2 separate regions of the Homo sapiens genome follow, and region 2 is linked to region 1. Evidence: fine-mapped expression QTL. A gene starts in region 1. The other region holds a variant in brackets. All regions are shown on one strand. Distances are from middle to middle. Region 1 holds the start of SCCPDH (saccharopine dehydrogenase (putative)). Region 2 overlaps SCCPDH (saccharopine dehydrogenase (putative)).

The links. PIP is the estimated chance that this variant, and not a neighbour inherited with it, causes the effect.
Region 2: its variant is fine-mapped to the expression of SCCPDH in prefrontal cortex (GTEx, PIP 0.95).

Annotation. Positions count from the first base shown.
Region 1 is chr1:246,723,302-246,726,215 of GRCh38, forward strand. It overlaps SCCPDH (saccharopine dehydrogenase (putative)), which reads left to right and starts at 1,108. Exons shown (of 12, transcript NM_016002.3): 1 at 1,108-1,311. The coding sequence starts at 1,122. RefSeq lists an enhancer at 542-701 and silencers at 912-1,041, 1,082-1,151, 1,252-1,461.
Region 2 is chr1:246,753,630-246,756,543 of GRCh38, forward strand. The region is part of intron 5 of SCCPDH (saccharopine dehydrogenase (putative)); the gene reads left to right. It also overlaps the pseudogene RPL35AP6. Among named protein-coding and RNA genes, the nearest start is that of SCCPDH, 31 kb to the left of the region's middle. RefSeq lists a silencer at 393-543. The variant G/T (reference allele first, on the strand shown) is at 1,666.

The sequences.
Region 1 (2,914 bases):
ACAAAATATTCAAAATATGCAAAACGGTACTATAATATTTATAAATACATACATATATAACAAGCAGAAAGATAGGAATAGGAATAATAAACACTAAATTCAGGCAAGTGGCCGTCTTGGGGACGCAAAAGGAAATGTGTTCAGGAATGAATACCTGGAAGCCTCGCTATCTGGAATATTTTTCTTAAGCTGTGTTGAGGGTACATATTTGTTATTGGCTGTACCTTTTTTGCAAGACATATATTTCAAAATTTTTAAAAGCATTCATTTATTCCTATTTTAATGAGAGTTTTTAAAAATCAGGAATGGGCTGGGTGCAGTGGCTCATGCGTGTAATCCCGACCCTTTGGGAGGCCGAGGTGGGTGGATCACCTGAGGTCAGGAGTTCGAGACCAGCCTGGCCAACAAGGTGAAAACCCATCTCTACTAAAAACACAAAAATTAGCAGGGCGTGGGGGCGCTCCCCTGTAATCCCAGCTACTCGGGAGGCTGAGGCAGAATCGCTTGAACCCAGGAGGCGAAGGTTGCAGTAAATCGAGATCGCGCCACTGCGCTGCAGCCTGGGCGACAGAGTGAGACTCCATCTCAAAAACAGAAAAGAGAAAAGAAAGGGAAAAAAGGGAAGAAAGAAAGGAAGAAAGCAAGCAAGCTCAAGGGTTCTCGGGGTGGGCCATCCCCGAGGCCATCCGCAGATTTTCTCGCACTCTTTGCTCCACCCCCACGTGCAACAAGGACAACCGGCTGCCGCCTCCAGCTTCCAGCAGGGCTAGAAGATGCGCTGCCCGGGGCGGCCAGAGCCCTGCAGAACAAACCGCCGCACGGAATTAGGGGCCGCCGTCCGCGCCTGCCAGGCTTGGAAGCGGACTCGCCCCCAGGGCCACCGCCCTAGGAAACCTCCCGTCGGAAGCCTCCCAAGCAAGCCGCTCACCCGCGGCTCCCGCGCGAGGCGGCGTGGGCGTGGGCGCGGCCCTGGCGCGGCGGCGCGCGCGGGGTGAAGGGAGCCCGGCGCGCTGGCTGCGGCGACGGCGGCCGTTGCTGCGCCGGGTACTGGGGTCGCTGCCTGAGGCGCAGGCGCCGTGGACTCCACCCGCCCCGGGGCCTGGGCTCGCTGTGGACTCGTCATGGCGACCGAGCAGAGGCCTTTCCACCTGGTGGTGTTCGGCGCGTCTGGCTTCACCGGCCAGTTCGTGACCGAGGAGGTGGCCCGGGAGCAGGTGGACCCGGAGCGGAGCTCCCGCCTGCCCTGGGCCGTGGCGGGCCGCTCCCGGGAGAAGCTGCAGCGGGTGCTGGAGAAGGCGGCCCTGAAGCTGGGTACAGCGGCGGGGCGGGACGGGGCTGCGCGGGCGGCTGGGCCGGGGACCCCGCATCGCCCCAAACGAGCGTTTCTCCCGCAGGGATGCGCCCTACGTGTCCCCGAGCCCTGCGTGAGGACAAGAAGAGGAGAGGGAGAGATGTTTCAAATACTGCCATAGCTTTGTCCCACCTCCTTAACTATATGTGTGTGTGCGCGTGCGTGTATAATATACACACACATTTTTTTTTCTTTCCTTCTCCTCTTTCCCGCTTTTTGCATTTCTGCCTCAGTTTGGGGAGCTCCCCTGGCGAAATGGTCAAGAACTTGAGTTGTCCCTCTCTCTGCTTCATCCTGCCCCGCAGCGGGGGCACCTGTTGAATCTGCGGGTTTCTAGATGTTTGGTCGGAGAGGAGAGGAGGGCTTTGGTCTCTTGGAGATCGGAGTCTCCCTTTGCCTCGTGTTTTGAGGACGGGAGAGCAAGCTTACGAGTTGTACTGACAGTGTCTTTGTGGCTATTCTGTTTTAGTTTCTTGTTTTGTGTGTAAGAATACTCCAGCAGTCTTCCTCTTCAGAGAATAAAAAGTGTGTATTTCTGGTTTAGACGCTTACGTATTCTCTAAGCATTCAGGTAGCATGTATTTATTGATAATCTAAGCATTCAGGTAGCATATATTTATTGATAATCTAAGCATTCAGGTAGCATATATTTATTGATTCTCTAAGCATTGAAGGAGCATATATTTATTGAGTGACGTTGTCCATGCTAAGACCTGTCCCGAGTCTGGGGTGCAGGATGGGACAGAGAGGAGACAGACACACGGATCCTGCTGCCTTCATGGCTGGGGAGACATCTGACTTACGACTCCGTAGCCTTTAAATTTGGCTATTAACTCCCGTAGATTTCCCTTATACAGACACCCATTAGAGTTCTGGAAATACTACATTCTTTCTGTTTAATCTACTTTCATACAATGCCCTGCTCGGAGTGCTTTTGTTCGTGGTTATGTACAGAAGACACCACGTAGGCTGGACTCTCCTACAGCTTTTGGTGCTGACACTACCAACACGTAATTCTGACCAAAGAGCTTTTTGGTCGTTATTTTTCCAACAGAAGTAATTTTACTATGAAAATATATGCTTCCATTTCTTTTTTCGGCTCAGCAAGATCGTACCGGTACAGCCTAGTCACTTATCATATATAATGCCCAAATCAAGTTTCATTGTGGGGGGATATACCTTCACCTATTGAAACCTGCATCACTTAGTTGAGCCAGTTAATTCCAATTATTTTCTTATGAGCCTGTGTGTGTTTATATAGCGTGTGCTTTTCACCTCAGAGTTCTAATTTTTTGTTTTTTGTTTGTTTGTTTGCCATTCTCCTGCCTCAGCCTCCTGAGTAGCTGGGACTAGAGGCGCCCGCCACCACGCCCTGCTAATTTTTTTAGTAGAGACGGGGTTTCACCGTGTTAGTGAGGATGGTCTCGATCTGCTGACCTCGTGATCCACCCTTCTCGGCTTTCCAAAGTGCTGGGATTACAGGCGTGAGCCACTGCACCCAGCCCTGATGGTTTTGATGTTAACAGTCAGTCCGAAACTCTCCATCACCTACAATTGGATCAT
Region 2 (2,914 bases), 30 kb after region 1:
GGGAAATTTTTGATCCGCTGTAGGAACGTTTTGGCCAGAAGGGTGTTCACGTTCCAAGACTCCCATAGCAGTTCGACGGATCGTGGCTCTTTCTTCCCCCGAGAAGAGAGGAAAGGGAAGTTCTGAAAATCCTTTTTACATTGCTCTATCTCACGCTGAAGTCCTTTTAGGGAAGAGGACTTAACGCTCGTAGTGAGTGGGCTCCTGGGACAGTTCCCAGGAGGCAGGGTTATAAGGAGGGGGACAATGGGGATAGGAGAAGGGTCTGGGACAGCAGCTGCTTTTTCTTGTTTTTGGTCCTTTCATTATCCTTCTAGTATTTTAACATGAGACCTAGGGGGCACTCAAGGGGAATATCCTTGTTATCTTTGTCCTTCTTGGTCCCTGTCTTGCTTGGGGTATTTCCCATATTGGGTCCTGGTTAGGCCCCATCTCTCATCTTAGAGATGTGTCTCCTATCCTTTAGCCCCACCTGCTGGAGGCTCCTCGCATTCACACACACTTTCAACCCCCGCAGAGTATCCCGACCACCGAGGAAACGCTTGGCTGCTCCTGTGGTGTTTCTTACCTTGGTCTGTGCACAGAGTTACCTGGTCGCTGCGGTGTGTGATGATCCCTTTCCCCAGGTCGCCAGCCAGTTTCTTTCTGCATTGCTGAGAGTCCGGGTTTATTTGTCACACCCGGTGGGTCTTGATTCCTTACCCCTGAGGCCACTGCAACAAGGCAGCGGGGCATGCCTCCTCATGGGAGAGGACCAGACCCTTCACCAAAGGAGAATGGGAATCCCGGGCGGGCCCCCAAATTTGTTAGAAGTAAATTTTCAGTGCCGCAAAAGAAATAGCACTTGAACATAAATTTTTTCAACTAGGCTGTAGCAGGATAAGCTGCAGACAAAACCCCTCAGACACCAAGTTAAAGAAGGAAGGGCTTTATTCGGCTGGGAGCTTCGGCAAGACTCACGTCTCCAGCAGTCGAGCTCCGCGAGTGAGCAATTCCTGTCCCTTTTAAGGGCTTACAACTCTAAGGGGGTCCGTGTGAGAGGGTCGTGATCCACTGAGCAGACATGTGTCCGTTTCACCTAGGTTATCTAATTTGTTGGCATACACTTTTCATAGTATTCCTTTATACTCCTTTTTATTTCTATAAGGTTGGTAATAATGTTCCCTCTTTTATTCCTGATTTTAGTAGTTTGGGTTTTCTTTCTCTTTTTTTTGGTCTGTCTAGCCAAAATGTGTCAGTTTTGTTGACCTCTTCAAAGAACCAACTTTTAGTTTTGTTGATTTTTTCTATTCTGTTTCATTTATTTCCACAATAGTTTTTATTGTTCCTGGATATGAAATTAATATAAAAATCAGCTGTATTTCTGTATGCCAGCTACAGTTAGAAGGTGATTATTTTTGTAAAAAACACCATTTATGATAGCATTAAATAAATCAAGTACCTAAGAGTAAGTAATAGAAAGTGTACAAGATTTCTTTGAAGAAAACTGTAAACCTTTATTGAGGGACCATAAAGAAGACATAAATTGAAGGATCCAGCGTATTCATGGATTAAAATATGAATCCATTTTGTAGTTAATTTTCTTCAAATTTGTTTATAATCTCATGCAATTCCCATCAAAATCACAAACAGGTTTTTTTGTTTGTTTTGTTTCGATGTGCATCT[G/T]GACAAGCTGTTTCTAAAATGTATGTGGAAACTCAAAGGGCTGAGAACAGGCAAGATATTCTTGAAAGAGAATAAGGCAGAAAGACACTCTTGGAGATCAAGACCTGTTATTAAGTCAGCATAAACCCTTGACATATGGTAAAGGGGCTTTTCCTATCATTTTTCTTTTCTTTTTACAAATCCACTTTTACTGGTATTTATTTACTTTTCATTAGTTCAAATCCTTGAGGAGTACAGCATCACAGAGCCGCCGTGACTAGTGGCCTAAGCAGGACGGCTGCTTTGGAATTAGGCACACATTGTGCCACTGTTTCCGTGGGCACACGTTACCTTTCTCCACCTTACTCTGGTTTTGTTTGGTTTGCTGCCAGGAGTCAGTATTATTCTTTGTACACATAAGCGCATTTCCTGCCCAAATCAAATCTCATTTTATGTCAGCCATAAATACCTTCAGTTTTAAGAAGAGCTGTGTCCTCCCTTTGGTTCTGGAGATCCTGCTGACGGCAAAAACGGCCTTGGACCACAGCTTTCCAGGCATACTTGTCATTTAGAATTCCTCCTCCCAGCAGGCCTCCGGGCTTCAAGTTGGCAGGAACAGCAAGGGGGCTTTTCGGTAGATGCTGCTGGGACAATTGAGTATCTACTTGGAGAAAAAATGGAATTGGATTCATACTTTTGCACCCCGTACCAAAATCAAGTTTAGATGGATTGTGGATGCCCTCACGGTTGGGAATGGCTTTTACAAAAAGACAAAGAGGCATTAAATGTAATGAAAAAGTGATACGTTTGTGTACTTTTAAAATTGAGAATGTTTCCCAAAACACACGATTAAGAAAGTCAAAAGGCTAGCTGCAATGTAGGAGTTACTTACAACACGTGGTAAATCCTGACATCACAATTTTGAGCATAAGAAGCCAAACACTCAGTAATAAATCTTGCTTGATTGCATTTCTGTAGAGCTTAGAAACAGGCAAAACTAATTGTACTGTTTAGGGATGAATTCTTAGGTGATTAAACTCTAAAGAAAAGAATTTTTCTTGATTACTGTAAAGGCAGGACGGAAGGAGGGCCTTCTTAGTTGCTGGTTACCTGTAGTTCTTGACCTGGATGTTTACATGTACGTTGGCTTCATAACATACATGAATATACAATTTAATAAAATTGTATTAGGTACGTCTCTATATTTTTCTGTGAAACGCAAATAGTTTTTTAAATTGAATGTAATTTTTTCCTTTTCAATGGCTTAGTT